3 linked regions of the Homo sapiens genome follow. The protein of the gene in region 2 purifies or fractionates together with the protein of the main gene of each other region. This does not show direct contact. Each region holds a gene or a part of one and is shown on either strand. Other genes may lie near its edges.

What was found.
Region 1: the proteins of PCDH1 (region 2) and DCAF4 purify together in Homo sapiens (co-immunoprecipitation; one large-scale study listed by IntAct). This does not show direct contact.
Region 3: the proteins of PCDH1 (region 2) and ZNFX1 purify together in Homo sapiens (affinity purification with mass spectrometry; one large-scale study listed by BioGRID and IntAct). This does not show direct contact.

The regions. Positions count from the first base shown.
Region 1 is NC_000014.9:72,929,418-72,933,068, forward strand, and holds part of DCAF4 (DDB1- and CUL4-associated factor 4), read left to right. Parts: intron 1-147; exon of another isoform or gene 148-339; coding exon of another isoform or gene 340-403; exon of another isoform or gene 404-547; intron 548-3,651. UniProt on the Homo sapiens protein: May function as a substrate receptor for CUL4-DDB1 E3 ubiquitin-protein ligase complex.
Region 2 is NC_000005.10:141,868,341-141,871,991, forward strand, and holds part of PCDH1 (protocadherin-1 isoform 2 precursor), read right to left. Parts: intron 1,288-3,651; exon of another isoform or gene 1,265-1,287; coding exon of another isoform or gene 1,177-1,264; intron 1,092-1,176; coding exon 229-1,091; intron 139-228; exon of another isoform or gene 1-138. UniProt on the Homo sapiens protein: May be involved in cell-cell interaction processes and in cell adhesion.
Region 3 is NC_000020.11:49,253,925-49,257,575, forward strand, and holds part of ZNFX1 (NFX1-type zinc finger-containing protein 1), read right to left. Parts: coding exon 3,493-3,651; intron 2,024-3,492; coding exon 1,884-2,023; intron 726-1,883; coding exon 571-725; intron 1-570.

The sequences.
Region 1 (3,651 bases), on a different chromosome or scaffold from region 2:
GCTGCCGCGCGTGGTGGCTCACGCCTGTCATCCCAACGCTGCGCCAAGGCAGGAGGATCGCTGGAGGCCAGAAATTCGAGACCAGCCTGGGCGGCAACAAAGCGAGACCCCGTCTCTACAAAAATATTTTTTATTTTTATTTTATTTTTCCGTCAAGCTGTTCTTTATTTCAGGAAGAGGGCAGGGGAGGGGGCTCAGTCTTTCTTGGCAGCGGCTTTCCTCATGGCAGCCAGTACCTTGCTCAGCTCCTCCCGCTTCCTCTTGGCACGGATGTGCGTCCCCACCCTTTTCTTGATGAACTTGAGGGCCCATTTCTCCTTGAAGACCTTCAGTGACTCCATGGCGCGCAGCTCGTACGAAGCGAAGCCACACACCTCCCGGATCATGTCCCGCTACAAACTTGGTGCGTTTGCTCAGACGCCCGCGGCGGCGGCTGTGCCTGGGCTTGCTCACGTTCTTGGTCACCTTGTGGCCCTTGTTGAGGCCCACGGCCATAAGGTAGCGCAGAGCCATGGCTGCTGCTCTCCATGGCGGCCGTGGCGGAAGGCCAAAAATATTTTTTAAATTAGCCTGGTGTTGTGGCTCGTGCCTGTAATTCCGGCTACTCCGAGGTTGAGGCAGGAGGACGGCTTGAGCCGGGGAGATGGAGGTTGCCGGGAGCGGAGATCGCGCCACTGCACTTCAGCCAAAAGGGGGGTAGGAGGGAATAAGTAAATAAAATTAAATAAATAAAGTGGTATCTCACTGTGGTTTTGATTTGCATCTACCTAAGGACTAATGATGTTGGGTATCTTTTCATGTGCCAGTTGGCTATTTGTGTAGCTTTTTCTTTTTTTTTTTTGAGACGGAGTTTTTTTTGTTTGTTTTTGAGACGGAGTTTCGCTCTTGTCGCCCAGGCTGCAATGCAGTGGCACCATCTCGGCTCACTGCAGCCTCCACCTCCCGGGTTCAAGCGATTGTTCTGGCTCAGCCTCCCAAATAGCTGGGACCACAGGCGCCCGCCACCACACCGAGCTGATTTTTGTATTTTTAGTAGAGACGGGGCTTCGCCATGTTTATCAGGCTGGGCTTGAACTGCTGTCCTCAAGTGATCCGCCAGTCCCAGCCTCCCAAAGTGCTGGGATTACAGGCGTGAGCCACTGTGTCCGGCCCTAAATAATGTCTTTCGATGCACGGAAGTTTTCAATTTTGATGAAGCCCAATTTATGTGTGTATGTGTGTGTGTATATATATATATGTAGTGTGTGTGAGTTTTGGGTGTCATATTTGAGAAATCATTGCCTAATCAAGATCATGATGATTTATACCTTTGTTTCCTTCAAAGAGTTTTATAGTTTTAGATCGAGATCCATTTTGGTTCATTTTTGTCCCATATGGTATGAAGTAAGGATCCAAATTCATTCTTTTGCAGTTTGATATTCAAATGTCCCAGCAGTTGAAAAGACACTTCTTTCTTTCATTGAATGGTCTTGGCACCTAGATGAAAACCAGTTGACCATAGATAGGCATATGGGTTTATTTCTGGTCTCAATGCTACTCCATTGATCTATATTTCTATCCATATGCCAGTAACACAGTGTCTTGATTACTGTAGCTGTGTAATGAATTTTGAAATTGCGAGGTGCGAGTCATCCCAACTTTGTTCTTTTTCAAGATGATTTTGGGTATTCTGGGTCCCTTGCATAATATGAATTTAGGATCTGCTTTTCCATTGCTAAAAAAATGGCATTTGGAATTTTGATAGGGATTGCATTCAATCTGTAATTTCTTTCAACAGTGTTTTATAGTTTTCTGTGTACACGCCATATATTAATTTTGTTAAATATATTCCTAAGTACTTTTTCTCTTTTTTTTTTTTTTTTTTGTAACTGAGCCTGAGCAGGACCAGAGGAGTGCTTTATTCTTTTTGATGCCATTGTAAATGTAACTTTTCTTTCATATTCAGGCTGTTCATTGCCTGAACCAGTGTATAGAAATACAACTGGTTTTTCTATATTGATCTTGTATCCTGCAACCTTGCTGAATTCATTTGTGAGGTCCAGTAGATTTTTGGTGGATTCTTTAGGATTTTCTGTATATAAGATCATGTTTGGTTGCCTTTTCTTTGTCTTGCCTAATTGCCTGTCTAAAACTTCCACTACAATGTTGAACAGATGTATTGAGAACCAACATCTTTGTCTTATTCCTGACCATAGAGGGAAAACTTTGTCTTTGGCCACTAAGTATGATGTTAGGTGTGGGTATTTTGTAGATGCTCCTTATCAGGTTGAGGAAACTACCTTCTGTTTCTAGTATGTTGAATGTTTTTTTAATCATGAGAGGATGTTGCATTTTGTCCAGTGCTTTTTCTGTGTATCAATTGAGAAAATCATGTGAGGTTTTCCCCATCTATTAGTATGGTATATTGATTGATTTTCATATGTTGAACCAACCTTATATTTCTGAGATAAATCGCGCTTGGTCTTGGTATATAATTCTTTTTATATGCTCCTGGATTTTGCTTGCTAGCATTTTGTTAAGGATTTTTGTGTCTCTGTATTCATAACCCATACTGACCTATATTTTTCCTTCTTTTTTTTTTTTTTTTGAGAGATGGAGTCTTGCTCTGTTGCCCAGGCGGGAGTGCAGTGGCATGATCTCGGCTCACTGCAACCTCTGCCTCCCAGGTTCAAGCGATTCTCCTGCCTCAGCTTCCCAAGTAGCTGAGACTACAGGTGTGCACCACCACGCCTAACTAATTTTTTGTATTTTGGTAGAGATGAGGTTTCACTCTATGTTGGCCAGGCTGGTCTTGAACTCCTGACCTCAGGCGATCTGCCTGCCTTGGCCTCCCAAAGTGCTGGGCTTACAGGCGTGAGCCACTGCACCCGGCCTTGACCTATATTTTTCTTCCTATATCTTTGTCTGATTTTGGTAACAAGGTAATACTGGCCTTATAAAATGATTCGGAAAAATGTAGTAAATATCTTGGAATCATTTTTGTAGGAGCAGTTCCCAGAAGGAAGGCATGTACATTTGTAAGTTACTTGATAAATATTTTCCAGTCATTTTCCAAAAAACCAAATTGTGTTTATTTGTGATTAACATTGCCTTTGCAGAATAGTAGTCTCTTAGAAATTATAATTCTTAATGCCTTGAGGTACTTAAAAGTTTCTCTGAAAGACAAAGGCAAGCCCAACCTTCTGCAACACACCTGATTTTAACATCTAGAGCAGCTCCAAAGGTGCTAGATGCAGCATGTTACCAGCAAATTGTTTTCGAGTGCTTCCTACATAGAACAGGTTTTCTCAGCTTTAGCACTGTTTTGGGCCAGGTAACTCTTTTGTTGTTGTTTTTGAGATGGAGTCTTGCTATGTTGCCCACACTGGTCTCAAACTCTGGACTCAAGCCATCCTCCCACCTCAGCCTCCCAAGCAGTTGGAACTGCAAGTGTGAGCCATCACACCCAGCTGAATAATTTTTTTTTCTTTCTTTCTTTCTTTCTTTTTTTTAATGTTGTTTGTTTGAGACGGGATCTTGCTATGTTGCGCAGGCTGGTCTTGAACTCCTAGGCTCAAGCAATCCTCCTGCCTCGGCTTCCCGAGCAGCTGGGATTATAGGCATCAGCCACTGCACCCAGCCCTGGATAATTCTTGCTGAAGAATGTGTGGA
Region 2 (3,651 bases):
CTGTTCATATGCTATTTCACTGTCACCTAAGTAGCCTGATAGAGGAAAGTAATATCACCTGCTGGGGTGGGGTGGGAAAGACTCCCCTGGCTGAGTTTGGGGAGAAGGGGTCTCACTACAGTATTCTGGCAGTTTTTCCCCTAAGTGAAGGGAACTCTCACCTGGTTGGGTGGGCTCCCATTTCTAGTGGTGGGTCACCCTGACAGTTATACGGAGGGGGCCTCTCACCTGGATGACCGAGTGGCCTATGGGGCTATTCTCAGATAGTTCGGCCTCATAGGAGGGCCGCTCAAACTTGGGGGCGTTGTCATTGGTGTCAAGCACGGTGACACGCAGCAGGGCACTGCTGGCGCGTGGGGGGCTGCCGCCATCCTGCACCTTGATGGTGAGGTCATAGGAGTCCCAGCGCTCACGGTCCAGGTTGCCCATCACAATGAGCTGTGGTTGCTTCTCCTCCTGGTCCTCTGCCACCTGCAGCCCAAATAGCTCCTGGGCCTCAGGCCCAGCCTGCAGCTCATAGGATGCCACACCGTTGGGACCAGCATCACGGTCTGAAGCCAGCGGGATGGGGAAGAGTGAGCCGATGTTGGTGTTCTCAGGGATGGCCAGAGTGATGACTGGTGAGGCGAAGTTGGGTGTGTTGTCATTGATGTCTTGTACTTCTATCTGGCCCTCTAGCAGCCGGGGGCTGCCATTCTGCACGAGGTCTGTGATAGATACCTCAAACTCCAGGATGCAGGGATCACCAGGGAGCTGGTTCTGGCATTCACGGAGCCCCTCACGGTCGATGGAGGTCTCGGTGGTGAAAATGTCACCTGTCTTGCCATCCACGCGAAGGTACGGGGCACCCACCTCTAGCTTGTACAGGTGCCCCACATCTGGAAAACCATAGTCGGCTGCGAGGCTCCCAATGAGGGTGTTGGGTGGCTGTTCCTCCGGCACCTTGTACACTACCCGAGTGGCGTGGCCTGGGGATGGAGCCAGCAGGAGCAGCAGTGCTAGCAGCATGGAGGGCAGCAGTAGCCGTTGCCCCCCAGGGCCTGGGCTGTGCCTCAGGTGCTCCATCCTGGGAGGCCCCAGAATCAGGAGGGCTGCAAGGGGAAGAGGCAAAACAGAGGCCATGAGCTGGGAAGAAAAGCCTGGCCCTGAGCTGCCCAGAGCTGGCCCCATACTCACCCTCTCCCACTGACACACGATTCTCCACAAGAGCAGTCAGTCCCAGCACAGAACCCCGATTCCAGAAACTCAGATCCCTGAATCTCATCCACAGCTGGGTGTAGCAGCAGTGTCTGCCCCAGCTGGAGGAGCCAGTAAGAGGCCTGGCATGCCTAGAGCAGCTCCCGCCCATGGAACACCCTCACCCACCTGACGCTCCCTGGGCCCAAGCCCGGCTGCCCGCCCTCTTTCCTTCTTTTCCTCCTTGCTCTCTGCTCTGTGCTTCACCCAACACCTCCTTCTCACGAGCATCCTGCCTTAGTCACCGATGGTAATTACCTTGATACTGAGATAGGGAGAGAGAGCCAGTGGAAGGGTGAGACCTCGAGCATCCCCAACTGGAGCACCCCTCCCCACATGCATGGTAGGAAAGAGACACAAGTACGTCCTTACACACCCCAGACCCTGGGACCTTGACTTGTCACACTGGGCTCCATTAAGGTTGGCTGGAGGGAGAGGGGATGATGTCTCATTTCTCTTTGTTCTGAGATGCCAAGTCAGTGCATATGCATGAGGTATGACATCTCAAATCCTCTTTTTCTGACAATCACCCACGGTGCCCAGTATTCTCCACCCCCATAAAAGGCCAGCTTGAATTGGGCAAGGCTTGTGAAAATGGTTAGGGTTGAGGAGTAGGTGTTAGCCTTCCCGACTTTCCCCCAACACATATGCCCCAGAACGTGCACACAGGCCACAGAGCGTGCACACATGCCCCAGAGCATGCACACATGCCCCAGAGCATGCACACAGGAACATGCACAGTTGCTAGGGCTCCTCTCCTCTCCCTCCTGCTGCCATGGGCAGGTGCGTACAAGGGAACACAGGTCAAGATTGGGGTCAGAACTGTGGTCAGGGCTGACTAGCCCTGGAATTGGCATTGGGAGCTGCCCTGGCCTGTCCTTAGCAACAGGGAGCCCAGCAGGTCTAACTGGGACAGAGCTGCCGATGATAATGACACCAGCAGCCTTTCCCTGGCCACTCCCCCACCCCACACCCTCTGGTCTCTGGATGAACATCTGGCTCTTATTTGACATCCATCTCCGTATATCCAGCCCCTACTTCACACTTGCCTCTCCCAACCTCTGCCCTAGTCAACCACAAGCTGTACCCCATCACAACAATAACCCCCTTCTTCTGCCCATCTCCCCTGGCTTTGAGGTCGTGCATTTGCAGATCCCAGCTAGACCCAGCTACTGTCTCTGTCTTGAATGCCCCCTCCTCTCCAACAAAATCATGGCCAGTCCCTCCTTTATTCAAATCCAAAATCTTTGGATCAGCAGTTTCTTTGGAGGCTTCTGGTTCAGTCTCCTTTCCCCACTTCCTCACTTTTACCTGGAATACCTTCCCCACACCTGGAACACCCACCCCACATCAATCCCACTGAGGGCAGGCTCTGGCCCTCCAGGAAACCTTCACAGTCCTCTCCTGCCCACGGTGACCTCTCCTTCCTCCAACTCACAGCCACTTATTGTCTGCTCCAATCCCAAGGCAATGAATCATGGGGCTGACTGGGACACCGCCCGCCTGTGTTGTTCAGCTTCAGTATTGTGCACCTATTCCTGAGTTCTCTGCCTTTCCAGGCAAACACAAAGCACTACGAAGGAAGGGACAGTACTCTGTACACTCACTCATCCCCTGCCCCCTAACAATGCACCTTTGCACATCTGGGTACACTGTAGGGACTCAGTCATGCATTCAACAAATGTTTATTGGGCATTTACAATATGCCAGGCTCTGTCCTGGGCACTGGGATGCAGAAGTAAACAAGACTGGTCCAATCTGCCATGACAGTGCTTCTAACTCAATGACTATTTGTCCATTTTGTTTGGTTGCTTCTGTATACCATTTGGCGAATGTAAGGCAGCAGGGTGGAGAAGAGCGAGGGTTGTGGCATTAGACAGTCTGAGGCAAACCCAGCTGCTCACTTCCTGGCTGCATGACCTGAAGCAAAGATTTAGTGCCTCAGTTTCCTTACCTGTAAAATGGGGATAATACTACCTATTTCCTAGGGTGTTTGAGATACTGTGGGCTAAATGTGGGTACTCAACAAAGGACTCCTTCAAAGCATTTAGCACAATTGTAGTTGTGTACCTGTTTGGAAAATGTGTTAATTGTCTGTCTTTGCTCCAAGATGGTGAGCAGAAAGCAGGAGAGTTTCTACTTTGTTTGCTCCTACCTCCTCAGGGCTTAGCCCTGGACCTGGCACACAGTGGGCACTTGGCAGCTCTTGAATGACTGTTGTTATTTTGCTCTCTAGGCTTAGCCTTTCCTGGTACTTGCTGTGTGACCACTGCTCTTTTACTTGCTCACTTACCCGATTCCCCTACACCACTAAGAACTTCCTGGGGTAAAATGTAAGTCTTCTCTGTTTAGGGCACATAGTAGACTCTCAGCAAATGTTCACTGAATGCACAGAGTCTTTAGATAAATCAAACA
Region 3 (3,651 bases), on a different chromosome or scaffold from region 2:
GCTGGTCCTTATAGTGTTCTGGGTGGTCTCCAGAACATTAAAACTGTGTTGGTCACTGTTGGAGTTTCAAACCCAGCAGGAGAAAGTGAGTGAATTTCTTTTTTCTTTTTTTTTTTTTCTTTGAGACAGTCTCACTCTGTCACCCAGGCTGGAGTGCAGTGGTGCGATCTCAGCTGACTGCAACCTCCACCTCCCAGGTTCAAGTGATTCTTGTGCCCCAGCCTCCCGAGTAGCCAGGATTACAGGCACCCACCACTACACCCAGCTAATTTTTGTATTTTTAGTAGAGATGAGATTTCACCATGTTGGCCAGGCTGATTGCAAACTTATGACCTCAGGTGATCCACCTGCCTTGGCCTCCCAAAGTGTTGGGATTATAGGCGTGAGCCACTGCGCCTGGCGAAAGTGAGTGAATTTCACCAAGAGTTCTCAAAATATGGGTGCTTTCAGTAGCTTTTCATGGTATTTTCCTCTAACCTACCAAAGAAGCTCCTCTTTACCTGTCCTTAGATAATCTGGCACCAGAAGTGAACTTAGATGCAACAGGCAAATTTCTCCACAGTTTCTTACCTGTGGTTGTCATTCCTACAACCTGGGCATCTTTAAGAATGTGCAGGTCTTCCTGGAGTCTCAGCTCGGCCATTCTTTCTGCTGATGTGCGGTACTGGCGTTCATAGCTGAGGATCTTCCGGCGGGTGTCAGCCTGGTACAACTGTAGCCAGAGCCTGGAGAATGGGAAGAACCAAGGAAAGAAAGCCACATGCTCTTTGAGAAGGTGGAAGAACGCCCTTCAGTGTGCCCAGTGTATGAAGTGAACCTTGGACCCTTGGAGCATAGTGACAAACAGAGAGATACATTCAGGGACCTAAGAATCCAAAATGCCCAACAAAAAGATGTGCAGAGTAGTCAGGAGCTAAGGAAAGGGGTGAGATAAAGAACAAAGGTTAACTATGGGAAGAAAATAAGAGACTTTAAAAACTTTGGGAAGAATTCTCCCAGCTGCAGCATCCCTGCCTAATTTCCCTCCCCTCCTCTAATTCTCCATAGAGTATTTATTTTATTAGTAAAACTGATGATGTCACTAATCGCTGTAAAACTTTCCAACGGCTTTCTACTACTTTTTTTTTTTTTTTTTTAAAAGACGGAGTCTTGCTCTGTCACCCAGGCTGGAGTGCAATGGCGTGATCTTGGCTCACTACAACCTCCACCTCCGGGTTCAAGCGATTCTCCTGCCTCAGCCTCCCGAGTAGCTGGGATTATAGGCACCGGCCACCACGCCCAGCTAATTTTTTGTGTTTTTAGTAGAGACGGGGTTTCACTGTGTTAGCCAGGATGGTCTCAATCTCCTGACCTTGTGATCCGCCTGTCTCGGCCTCCCGAAGTGCTAGCATTAAAGGCGTGAGCTACTGCGCCCGGCCTCTCCTACTCTTTTTTTTTTTTCCTGTAGAGATGAGGTCTCACTATGTTGCCCAGGCTGGTCTTGAACCCTGGGCCTCAAGAGATCCTCTAGCCTCAGCCTCCCAAAGTGGTGAGATTACAGGTGTGAGTCATTGTGCCTGTTACCTCTCTGTTCTTTTCTGAGTTTTTATACCCATTTGTAACTTTTTATTTGTGGAATTACGTGATTAATTTGTTACCCTGGATAGACTCCATAGGCTCCACGAAGGTAATAATTAATTTGTTACCCTGGATAGACTCTATAAGCTCCATGAAAGTAGAGCAAAGTGTCTATTCTATCCCATGGCTGTATCCCTATCACTCAGCTCAGTGGTGGTGCTCAATCAATAATTAGTTAACATCGTTGAAGGTCTTGGAGGTGGAGAATGTTCTAGGAACAGAAGAGGAACTCCCTACATGGGTTGGCTAGATGTGGAACACAGTACCTATAAAGCTGCCAGCGAGAACTGAGGTCCAGCTGCCAAACATCCTCGATCTCGTTGGCCTCGGCTGCAGTCATGGTGTTCAGTTTGCGAAGCTCATCCTTCACTCTTTTTTTCATTTTCTTTTTCTGGTTGCGCTGGGTCTGCAGACATCAATACCAGGCAGGGTACTGTCTGAGCAGAGGCAGGCTTGGTTTTAAGCCCAAGGCAGGGGTCACAGCACGTAAGAAAAAGGGCTGGCATCACTGATTAATGTCAAGTGTCTTACATTCTCCCAACAGCTCTTCCACTGTAGAGTGGCTAAACAAGGACTCTGGAGCCAGTTTGCCTGGCTTCAAAGCCCTACTCTACCTCTTACTAGGTTGTGGGACCTAGTAAGGTAAATGACCTAACCTCTGTGTCCCTCAGTATCACCTTCTATAAAATGGGAATAATAATGGTATCTCTTTATAGGATTGTTGGCTTGTCAGGAGTAAATACGTGGAAAGCATTTATACTAGTACTAGCACTAGTTATCATTAAACATCTTTGACCATAGCCTGTTTCTTGTTCCTAAAATGCATGCCATGAAAGTCATGGGGGTGGTACTTTCTTGTTGAATGCTGTACAACCAGTGCCTAGCAACTGGTGCTTCACACAGGACTTGGCACAGTGCCTGCTAAAACGGTCCTACTGCCATCGTATCAACACAGTACCTTTAACAAGTGGTGGAAAGCACTGTTTATGAGAAAGTGCTCTCTTCTGGCCGTCACTGAGTCTGAGGCTATGAGCCTTTAGAAGGCTCGCAAGTCAGACAGATGTCACTAAATAAAGATCTTCCCGCTGCTTCAAAATGAAACAAATCAACCTTTCCTGATGCCTCCTGGGAGAGATGCTGAATCTGTGCTTCTAAGAATTGAGATCATGACTCCGCTCACCACATATAGTGATACTGAACTGAACTAGATCAGGTGCAAAGCCAGCACTCAGATGAAAACTGCATCCAAAGTTGCCCTTGAAAGTTCTCAAATCATTGGTAAGGTTTACAAATTCTTATTTTGAATATCTAATCCTCGATCATCATAGTTATGCATGGTAAACAGTGAGGACTACTAGGCTCCACCAAAAGGAGCAGAGGGAAGGCTACATGAAGACACCTGGGCATTCATACAATTCTGGCTTTAAGAGAAGTGTCAAATTCCAGGCTGAATGAAGGAGGAATATTCCATCCAGCCTGGAGGTCTCGCTTCATTGCTTACTTTAATCCTCTAAAATCTTAGTACATGTTCACAAACTCATTTGAAATAGAGAAAACAACACTCCTGAAGGCATTAAGTACTGAGACCGTGTTTGACCTGACTCATATGTGCTACATTCTTCCACAAGTTCTACAGAAGCACTTGGCTACCTGCTTCCTGTCTTTCTAAGTTGGCATTTCTTGCCAGAGGCCCTCTGAAGAACCATCGTATTTATATCCTTGGGAATCACTAAAGCCATCTCATACCAGGGGTAGGCTGTAATACAGGTACTTAGCTAATTGTAATGGTGAAGTGAATATACTGTATCAGAAGTGGGGGAAAACAAGCGGTCAGAACACTCTCAGGCCTGTTTCAACCCAAGGAAGTGAGTTTACCTGCCACTCTCCTGTGGCTTGCTCCTGTCCAGCTGCTGTCCCAGTGCCACAATGGTCTAGCCTCATGGCCAGAAGCATTTTAGCCAACTCCTGGTCTGCTCCACTCTCTTCCTTCTTCCGCCGCTGGGGCCTCACCACCTCTTCCTCCTCAATCACCCG